Regions from separate parts of the Homo sapiens genome. Here region 1 is linked to region 2. The links come from fine-mapping of genetic effects on gene expression. A gene starts in region 2. The other region holds a variant in brackets. All regions are shown on one strand. Distances are between the middles of the regions. Region 1 has its middle 5.1 kb from the start of EDN3. Region 2 holds the start of PHACTR3 (phosphatase and actin regulator 3).

Region 1 (5,374 bases), 310 kb after region 2:
AGCTAAGAGAAGAAGACAGTGTGTTCAGCTGGATGATCAGAGGAGGCAGCATTGTCCTTGGTCCCTAAAGCAAGCCGGGCGCCATGATTTGAGGCAGCAGCCTGCAGTGACACTCGCCAACACCAGCTCTCAAGCGAAAGAGCTCCCTTTCCTACTGTTCTTCTGGCTTCTGACGATGGCCAGGGCAATGACTCGATGTGTCTTTAACAGCTCTCGAACAGAGAGAGAGCTGTACAAAGGGATTTTTGAACAAAGGGATACAAAAGGAATGTAGCAGGCCATAGGCTTGTACAAAGGGATAGCAGGCCATAGGCTTGGAGCCTTTGTCAGGCTGTGGAATCGGGCTTACTGTGCATGGTAGTGATTGACATAAAATTCCTTTCTAAATTAATACACTTAAGTCAAGTAAAGGTAACCTCAATTACAATATGAAGTAATTCATTGTAAAGCCGGCTTGGAGACTTGGCAAGATCACAAAGCCTTCTGGGTTCCAGGCTAAGAAATGTGCAAAGGAAATATACAATTCATGTAACTCAATGGCAAGCTGGTGGTTTCCATCATTGTTTTGCCCTTGTGACAACTCAACAAAATTTATGCTAACATTATCCCCATCTCACAGATTAAAAAACTAAGGCTCGAAAAGGTCAAAGTAACCAGCCTACAACCATGCATCTATTAAGTGGCAGTCTATCAGGATTCAAATTTGACTCCACATGATTCCAGGGACAGAGTTCATAATGCTTAAGCAGCGCTGCCTCTGGAACTCATACCCAAGGTTTTAATGGTTCCCATTTTCTTCTGTGTATCATTGACAACTCACTGCCTCTCCATCTGTCTAGTTTCCATTCCATAATCTCTGATGGAAGGTCATGTAAAGGAATGATGACCTCTACAGAGGACACGAATGAATAGGCATTCTTCTCCGCAGACGTCTGCCAATATTCCTTGATCCTCCTTCACTGCCTCAGCATCCAATGTGCCCCTAGGAGAAGTCATGTATCAGGACACTGCTGGGGCTCGGCCAAGTGCACGGCTTGGTCATTGTGTTTATTTTTCCTCAACTTTTTCCAAGTCAGCAGATGTGCGACTGATACTTTGAGTCCTTACCACTTACATTTTGATTCAAAACCCAGCCATTAAGAATGTTGCAATTTATCTCAGATAAGCATCCCCTCAAGTTGTCTCTTTATGTGCTTTATGATTCTTTGAAGATTGTTTTTCCTTTAATTTAAGGGATTTAAGGGAGAGTAACATAATACATTATGTAGTTTTCCATCATGCTGGAATTTCTTCTCCCCACCCACCCACAGCAGCAGGAACTCTGGACTTACTCAAAAACCAAGTAATTAAGTGCTTTTCCATGTTGTCCAACTCTTAGCTGTGTCTTCCCTCACTGGCACGTGGTTCATTCTAAGATGCACTGGAGGAAGTGCCAGGCTCCAAATCCCTTGCTTTACAAATGAGGTACACTGTGTATAATATTCTCCGTGAAATAAAATGATCACAATGCATTCTGAACTTTAGTGCTATCAATAAAATGTGTTCAAAGCCTAAGAGAAATCGGGTGATCCCAAAAGCAACAAAACTTGTTCAAAAGAGTCCTGAAGTTTTTTCCTGTGTTTTCTGCTGTGGACATTTGCTGTTGTTGCCCTGCCAGCATCCCCATCCCTCCAGGTCTGGTAATGGACCACATCTTCCCCTGGGGAACCACCCCTCCCCTTCTCTGTCCAAGTGGTTTCAGGGGACGCTCCAGGGCCAGGCTTGTGACTATGGATTAACTAATCAGACCATACATCATCTTTGAGATAGGAAGAATAATGGTATCCCCAAAGATGTCCATGTCCTAATCCTCAGAACCTGTGAATATGTCAACTAACATGGCAAAAGGGATTTTAAGGGTGTGATTAAAGACATTGAGATGGGAGATGACCCTGGATTATCGGGGGTGGGGGGCGGTGGGCAATGTAATTTTTAAAAATGTTCTTTTAAGAGGGAGGGGGAGGGTCAGCGTCAGAGAAGCTGTGACAATGGAAACAGAAGTTGGGCTGGTACAAGGCTATGAGCAGAGGAACACAGGCAATGTCTAGAAAATGGAAAAGGCAAGGGAATGAATTCTTTCCTTCAGCCTCCAGAAGGCACATAGCCCTTCCAACCTATTTTTAGACTGCTGACCTCCAGAACTATAAGATAATCAATTGGTATTGTTTTAAACCATTAAGTTCATGATGATTTGTTGCAGCAGCAATAAGAAATTAATACAACTTTAAATATAGTGATTTGTCCAGAGATAGGCCCATGAGCCAAGCCTGGCTGCT[C/A]AGGACCCAGGAGATTCAGTTCTGGGACTTTGAAAAGAGGCTCTTCTGTTTTTCTGGGGAGCCGCTGAGAAAATCAGATGAAAGCTTGCTGGTGCCAGCAGTACTTGTCATCATGAGGTGAAAAGTCTCTCCGGGAATGGTGCCAACACAGAGTAATCGGTAGAAAGTAGAAAGTAGAAGTAGGGAATCAAGGCTAAGTCATAAGCCCTGGACCCAACATGGCTCCTTGGACCTTTCACCTACATCAGCCAAGACATCTCCATCTTTGCTGACACCAGTTCAAGTTAGGTTTCTTCCACTCGCAGTCAAAAGCATCCCGATGTGTTTTGTCTCAACTTACTGTGAGAGTGGAGTAGGCTGTAAAGAACATGGATGCTGCTCATGGTAATTGTCTCCAGAACCAGCAGCAGAATGGCTATGTTGGTTCATTGGTCAGGGAATGAGAAGAGCTACTGAAATAAATGCTTAGTTTTTTTCTAGAAAGTCTGAAATTTCACAGTTCTAGCAGGCAAGACATAAGTGCTCGTTCAAAACCATCTCTGGTGGGAGTAGAAACCATGCAGGGAAGAGAGAAAGAGTGGCCATTTGGACCCCGAAGCAGCACATTATACAACCATCCAATGCAATGCTAACCTGGAGCCTCATACCCATAGACAGACCACTTCCTGATGGAAGGGCACAGATTCCATCTCTCAACAGCACCCAGCCCTTGGGGGAAAAAGGTAAAGGAAGTCGATTTGTTTTTGGAATCTCTTGCATTTTGGTATTTGTTTTATTTCAGCAATGCCTCTAACTCATACCTTTCCCATCCCTCCCAGGAGCCCTGACCCAGACCGCATGCACGCACACACACACACACACACACACACACACACACAGTCTCAACTTATCTCAAACAACATGTGTGTACTTTAACTGGAGCCTTCAATGCCTCAGCCAAAGTTGGGAATTTCAAGCATCTCAGCAGATACATGGGAGAGATGCTTTTGAATAAGTTAAGTCAACATGCCACAAACACACCTGTGTGTTTTAATTACCTTGAAGTAGCCTTGACTTTTATCAGAGGAATTTTTCACAAGCTGTATCCCTTTAAAGTTCATATAGTGATGAGTCCCTGTGTCCACCAAATGCAGCCAATCACTGGATGTGGAAAACTTTCCAGCAGCTGCCAAATACCTTGATCTGTTTGCAGAATAAAAATATTCACATAAGCACTCCTTCATTCTCACCTCATTGCATGAAATCCTGACCAAAGCCACTTTAAGTCCCAGATCAAATGCTGCCCCTTCTAGCAACCTGATTTGCCTGTTTAAAAAAATAATATGTTGAGATCCTCCTGTAGCTGCTCAAACATTTAGACTTGCAGGAAAGCATAATGGCCTCACTCATGGGCTTTGAAGTCAAACAGACCTGGATCAAAATACTGACATCCCCCTTGCCTAGCTGTGTGACCTTGGGCAAGTCACTGCACCTCTTTGAGACTCAATTTCCTCATCTGTGAACTGAGGATAAGCGTTGTCGCACAGATTAAATGACAGTGAAGCATTGAATATAGGACCTGGAGCAAAATAAATAAGCATTGGATAAATGTTACCCAGCAGTGATAGTAGTTTTAGTAATTATGGTTATGTGCAAACTTTTGCCTCTCACCAGATTGGAAGTCCTTTGAGGATGGTGTATGAGTTATCCATTGCCACGTAATGTGCATTACAAGTGTTCCTCAAACTGCAATGATGGTCAGCAAAGCATCCAGTGGCTAGGCAGCTCTGTGGACTGCCTAGACCCCCTGCTGGACTCAGTCGTTTGTCTGGGGATAGCTGCTGGAGGATCCGGGTTGACCTTGACTGAGACAATGAGAATTACTCACCTCTACTCCCCAAGTCTCTTTTCCTCCAGCAGGCCAGCCAGGTATGTCCTTCTCATAGCAGGAGAAGGGGCTCCAGAGATGAAAGCTTAACACACGGGCCCCATGCAAGCCTCTGTTGGCTCCATGAACATCCCAATGGCCAAACCAAGTCCCATGGCCAAGCTGTTGTGACTCAGGAGGGCACACCATGGCAAAGGGTGTAGTAAGAGAGGTGTGAAGAATTGGGGCTATTTGCAATCTACCACAAGCAGGAAATGAAGTCCTACAACAGCCTAAAGTGCTGTCGTGGTCCTGAGAAATCCATTTGTAGATGCTGGCTGAGCTGAACATGAAGTTGGGCTCCAAACCTAAGTTGCCACTCTTAAACATCAAAAGCAGTGGTTAAAAATAGAGGAATTTATAGAGTGCAGGTGATTCATTGTTGTTGAGGCTTGTGGGTCCACCCCCCCACAAAAAAAAACAGCTAGCTTTTTTTCCTTACATGAAACTATTTAAACTTCTGTCCCCAGCGCTAGAGAAAAAAAAGATATTGAAGGTTCTGCATTCCTAGTATGTCACCTACTTTTCCTCCTCCCTCACACCTGGGAACAGTTCAAACTTGAAAGAGAAGTAAGGAAATGAACGGTGAGAGGGCAGCAAAAACCAATGGGACGGAGGAGAAGCCACTGCGGGTGGGGGAAGGAAGAACAGAAATCTAAGCTGGCTGCCGGATTCTGGAACTTTCAAAACCTAAAATAAGGAATGGACTTCACAGAACTTCTCAAGCTAGGGCACAGACGCATTTTCTTCTGAAAGAAATTTCACAATTGTGTTTTTAATGAGCTCAAACCACTTTAGCAGGACACAGTTAAACAAAAGAGTAACACAATCAAGCCCGGAAGTCATAATTCAGATTCAGAAATGCAGGGGGGGCAGGATTTGACCTGGTACCTTCTCAGAGACGTAGGACTCCGAGAGAGCAAAATCTCCTGCCGGAACGTGCTGATGGATTGGGGAGGAAATGGGAATCATTTGGCTTTAAAAAAAAAAAAAAAGAAAAAAAAAACCTTAGAATTAAACTCTTAGTTACTGAGATGTCGCAACTCACATCACTATGAAAGTCATGTAAAAGGGTTCTGTGTTTGTCCCTTTATTCATTCAACTACTTATTAAGCACCTACTGGGAGTCAGACACTTTTTCTAAGTACTAAGA
Region 2 (5,374 bases):
CACAATCCATAAATACTTAATTGCTTGGTGCTTTTTAGTAAGGTTCTACTGCTCACAGAATTGCACATATTTTAGACTTTTCACCTCTGACACCTGTTCTCTGGGTCCCATTTAGACCAGTTGCACCAGAGGAGAGCTCAAGCCTGTGCCCTCCCACGCATAACTTAATCACAGGCATCCCAGCCCTTCCTCCTCCTTCTCTCATGGACCGGCACCACCTGCCCAACCCTCCGCTCCCACCCACAGAGGCATAAACTCACATACAGCCAAAAAGCCAAGTCCTCCATAATTTCCATTTCAAGTTTGCTTCCTCTTACTGCCAGGGAGACAAAGGGAGCTTAGAAGGATTCTCATGAGAAGCCACTCAACTTCCATGATTGGAACAGTTGTGGATGCGCCTCTCCAACCCAGAGAAAGGCAATCCATCATGGAGTGCTGAAGGCTGAATCCCCCATTCCTAGTAAAAGGATTAATTAAAACCTTAAGGGTCGGCCATGGCAGCCTCTGCTTGAAACTCTAAGGAAATTAACCTGCCCTCCCAGATAAAGAAAAGTCAGAGATTTATTCAGGCCGGTACCTTAGTTTGACCAAGTGACACAGTGTCAATAGTCTTAACAAAGAAATCTTCCAATACTTGCCCGGGTTTATTGTTTAAATTTTCAAATGGGGGGGGGAGGGATCCAGTGCCCACACAGCTGCCTGTAATGAGTCCTCTAGGCAGTTTATCGGGAAGCTCTGGTGTGTTCCAGTGCAGGAATCCCTCCCCACAAAGCCAGCCTTCACCCGGGCCCCAGGGATTCTGATGCCCACCATTTAACATCATCAAGTCCCCATCTGGGGTCGTTGCATTTAGAGAGAATAAGTCTTCAAAGGCAGGCGAAGCAACTTGTTATCAAAACAGAATCTACGAAGGAATTGTGCTTCTCTAAGATACAAAACTGAGTCCTGTGGCTTGATACCAAAACACCAGCTTTGATTCTTTTTTTGAACCCTACATTTCAGAAGCCCAGACTTCTCCCTGTGAAGTGAAAATTGCCTTCTGGTGGAGAGAGGTTTTAATGATCACTTTGCTTCCTGCGTCTCCATGGTGACAGGCGCACACAGCCCACCCCCCCCCCCACCTCCCCCCCCGCTTTATTAGGCCTTTCTTCCTCTCTGGAAAGTAATCAATCAAGCCCTATAGACGCCTTTGTGACCGGTTTATCACCTAAACAATCAACGCTGCCATGGGGGTGGAAGAGTGGACGGAGTCCACACGCTGTCACGAAACCGGGCTCTGTCCTGGCGCACGCCCTTCGTCTCCCTGCCGGCGGCTCTGCCCAGCACACCTGTCCGGGGGCTAGCGCGCCCAGGTGCGCCAGGCCCCGCTGGAGTCAGGCGCCTGGTGGAAGCCCTCAGCGCGGTGGCCTCAGCTGCGGAGCGCTGCCTTCCAGGAGCAGATGCCCAAGCGGGGACGTCCGGAGCTGGGGCCCGGCAGTGGGGAGGGAGGGAATGGCCCAGAACCGGCGCTGGGCGGAGGCGGCCACGGGTCTGCCTCTCTTCCCCCAGCCGGTCAGCACCCGAGGAAAGGAAGCCTCCTTCGAGGGGACGGCAGAGCTCACCAGCCGGAGAGGAGGGGAAGCTGCAGCGCCCGGCTCTACCCAGGAAATCAGCTCTTTTATGGACAAAGGGCTCCGAGGCGCCCCAGCCCTGCGAGACTGGGGATAGGAACCGCGGGGCCGAGCGCGGGTTCCTGCCGCGGCTCCCCGAATGCAGGCGGGGCGCGGAGCCTCGCGGGGTCCTGCTCTCAGCGCCACCTGCCTCGGGCCTCCCCGACCCGCCCGCCGCCCCCGCCCAGCCCGTTACCTGGGTTCTCCCCGGCGTCCGCGGAGGAGGTGGCCGAGGAGTCGGTGAGGACGCTGGGGTCACTCTGCGAGCGGCCCCGCGACACGAGGCAGCCGCTCCCGTCCTCCGACGCGGCCATGGGCCCGGCCGGCGCGGGGGCAAGTTAGAGCGAGCCGCGTGGAATCAGAGCATCCGAGGCGGCCAAGGTCACCGGCGAGGGGGCTGGAGGGGGCGTCTTTTTAAAAAAGAAAATTAAAAAAAAAAAAAAAAAAAAAAGGCCGGGAAAGGAAACGAGCTGGAGAAAGACGCCGGGGCTGGCTTCAGGGCGGGGAGACAATAGCCTCGCCGGCTGCAGCCAGGCGCATCCCGGCGTGCGCGGCCTCGCTTTGTTATTTATTCGTGTTTATTCCCATTCTTCAGTCTATATTCCAGGGAAAAAAAAAAAAGTTGAACCAGGAAATAAAAACTTTTTCTTGTCAGTGTTTATTGCGTGCTTGGGGCAGGGGGTGATGTCCTGGAATGTCTGGGGGCGCTCCCTCCCCCCACCCCACCCCCCACCCCCCCAGGAAAAAAGGGAAAAGGAAGAATCTTTGCTCTTGCAATTGCTTTAATCTGAAAGCTGTTCTTGGAGCATCTGTTGGAAAACATTAGGATTCTCCCATCATGCCGCGCGAGAGGAGCATGACGTCACGGGAGAGGGGCGTGAGAAGGCGCGTGGCCACTGGGAGGGGTCGCACATACCTGGACCGCGCGCCGGGGTGGGGGAGGAGGGGCTGGACCCCGGGTTAGGAGCCGCCCACCCCACCAAGCCGTGCTCTAGAAACAGGAAAGCTTCCTAGTCCCGTTTCCTCCCCTCCCGGAGGAAAGGGAACCCTGAGAGCCCCTAATTTCCCCAGCAGCTGCAGACAGCTGGTTTCCCTGGTCCTTCCTCTCCTGGGACTGGGAGGCCAGTGGGTCCCGACGCGCCCACCCCGGCACCGGAGGGGAGCGACCTGAGGCTTCCTCCCCGCAACCACCTGGCCTGGGCCTGCTAGGGCACCCCGGACCCTCCGAACCCTCGCTCCGAACCCTCCTCCCTGCCGGGGGGCGGGGGGGCGGGGGAGAGGGAGGAGGGCACGGGCGCTTTCCAATGAGGCTTTTCCTCAGACGCCCTTAGGAACCTGAGGGGCCAGGCAAGGGAGGCGACACCCCCCAGGGCTGCCACTCACAGAGGTGTCCTCCAGGGTGCTAAGGAGCGATTCTCACAACCCCAGCGGTGGTGTGGGGTGAACACAGGCAGGCAGCCGCTGCTTCCCCAGCCAGGGCAGGGAAGGAAGAAAGTCCAGGAAAGGGGTAGAGACGGGGGTGGAATGGTGGTGTCACCTGGCCTGGTCCTGGAAGGTGCCCAGAGGAGGAGGCATTTCAACAGACACCAGGATTCAAGGACCACAGAGACACCTGGGGGAGGACACCCCCATTTCAATTTCTCAACCCCATGGGGCAGCCCCGCTCTAAGCCCCCTTTGCAGGTGCTGGAAGGGGTGGGGGCAAGCGGGGAGAGTCGCTCACCAAGGGTCCTCCTGCTGGGGACAGAGCCCTCCCTAAGGCTGCCCCCATCAGATTAGCACCTACAGCAGGGCCTGGGAGTGCAGTGTGAGCGCTGGCAGTGTGGACGAAATCCCGGTTAAGCGCCAAGGACAGAACTGAGCGGGGTGGTGGTGGGGAGGGGGAATAAAGTGGATGTTCACTCCACACAGAGCTTTGGGCTCTTAGCAGCAGTTATTTCAGCAGCATCAGTCACCTCTAAAGAAAGGACTCATTCATTCATTCAGACTGTGTGCAGAGTCGAGTGTGTGCCAGGCACCACACCAGGCATTAGGGACCTAGCAGTGCACAAACACAGAGACGCCCCAACTCCTTGAGTCTTCCGGGAAAGGGGGAGGGTGAAGCCGAGAATGGTCACCAACACACTAATAAGATGCCCAAATAATCATTTAATTACAGTTGGCAATTAAGATCAGGAAACAAAGAGGAAACTGGTGGGAAACTGCTAGGAATAGATACGTTTTATCCACATAAAAATGTGCTGGCTGGATGGTGAAGTGGCCTGCCAGCCTTGGACTGAGCATTTTGCATGGGGACCTCATTCCTTCCTACAACTGCCCTGGTAGGTGAGAGCTACTGTGGTCTCCACTTTTGAGATGAAGGCAACTTCAAGAGGTGAGCACTCTTGCCCAGGTTACAAGCCAGCACGTGGAAGAGCTGGGCCACAGCCAATGCTCTTGGCCCAGGGTCTCTCCAAGTGGGTCTTCAACACCTCCCACTCCAAGTCCCCAGGGGCTGTCCTGACACACTGAGTACTGGCCCCATGGGAAGGTTTCTGAATCCTTGCCCCCAACCATGCCTTGGGCCCCTTCCGAGTCTGGGTGAGTGAACACCTGAGACAGTTCAGTTCCATTGGAAGGAAGCCTGCAGCTGACCCAGCCACGGCAGGTGCAGAAATGGTGGGGATGGGCAGGAAGGGATAGAGCCCAGAGACTGGCTATAGGTGGGGGGGAGGAGAAAGATCACACCAGAGGTCTCCAGCTGTCTGTCATTTGCCAACCATCCCTATGATTTTTAGCCTTCCCTATTTAAAACCTATCCTTCCATCCCTTAAGATTTGTCTTTAAATCAACTCTTTGCACTTAAACATATTTTTTCTTTTCTCTCTCTCTCTCTTTTTTTTTTTTTTTTGAAAGAGTTTTGCTCTGTTTTCCAGGCTGGAGTGCAGTGGCTATTCACGGGGGCAATCATAGTGCACTACAGCCTCAAACTCCTGGGCTCAAACAATCATCCCACCTCAGCCTTCCTAGTACTTGGGAGTACAGTGTGCACCTCCACACCGGGCCGACATGCATGTTAAAGGAAGCCTTCAATAGGACTGATGGAGCACAGCCTCGCTGGCTGGCATTGGTGGGGGGGACCACGGCACTAACTCAATACCTGAGTCCACTCTTGGCCTGAGCTGTCTCCTGTGTGGTTAAAAAGGGCCCAAGGGTGAGAGAGGAGTTCAGCCAGGCAGGCACCGAATAGAGACATCCTCCTTAATGTTACCATAAGGACAAAGAATGGAAGGAACTTTCTATCTAAGCCAATGTTCCTGCCTTGTCCGTGCACCACCAAAAATTATCCCTAGTCCCTTCAGATGGTCTACACAGCAGCACCCATTCACCTACTCCACCAAACTGTGTATGGATGAGGGTTAAAAACATATAAAAGGATAAGACTTGGCATTTGAGCTCAGGAGCCCACATGGAGTGGGGAAGCAGAAGATGAGATGCAACCAAGTTTTATTTCTTAGAAGTATATATTTTAGCAAAGCACTGTGGTTTGTTAAAGGTAGGTAGAGCTGGAGCTTTTCCTTATATTATTCTTTGGCTTTGAGATGTTCCATACTAAAAATAGTTTTAAATTTAAAAAAAGTTAGCAATCCCACCTCTACTGACCAATAGAAGATAATAAGGTCTCCGGGTAAATTGCCTGCCGGAGAGACTTTGGACTTCAAAGTCGGTCATCTCCAGACCATGACT

Evidence for each region. PIP is the estimated chance that this variant, and not a neighbour inherited with it, causes the effect. A credible set is the group of variants that fine-mapping cannot tell apart.
Region 1: its variant is the best candidate, but not a certain one, in a credible set for the expression of PHACTR3 in breast (GTEx, PIP 0.76).

The regions. Positions count from the first base shown.
Region 1 is chr20:59,292,799-59,298,172 of GRCh38, reverse strand. No RefSeq gene overlaps it. Among named protein-coding and RNA genes, the nearest start is that of EDN3, 5.1 kb to the left of the region's middle. The variant C/A (reference allele first, on the strand shown) is at 2,316.
Region 2 is chr20:59,601,604-59,606,977 of GRCh38, reverse strand. PHACTR3 (phosphatase and actin regulator 3) reads right to left here and starts at 2,438. Exons shown (of 13, transcript NM_080672.5): 1 at 1,846-2,438. The coding sequence starts at 1,963. RefSeq lists a silencer at 2,617-2,817.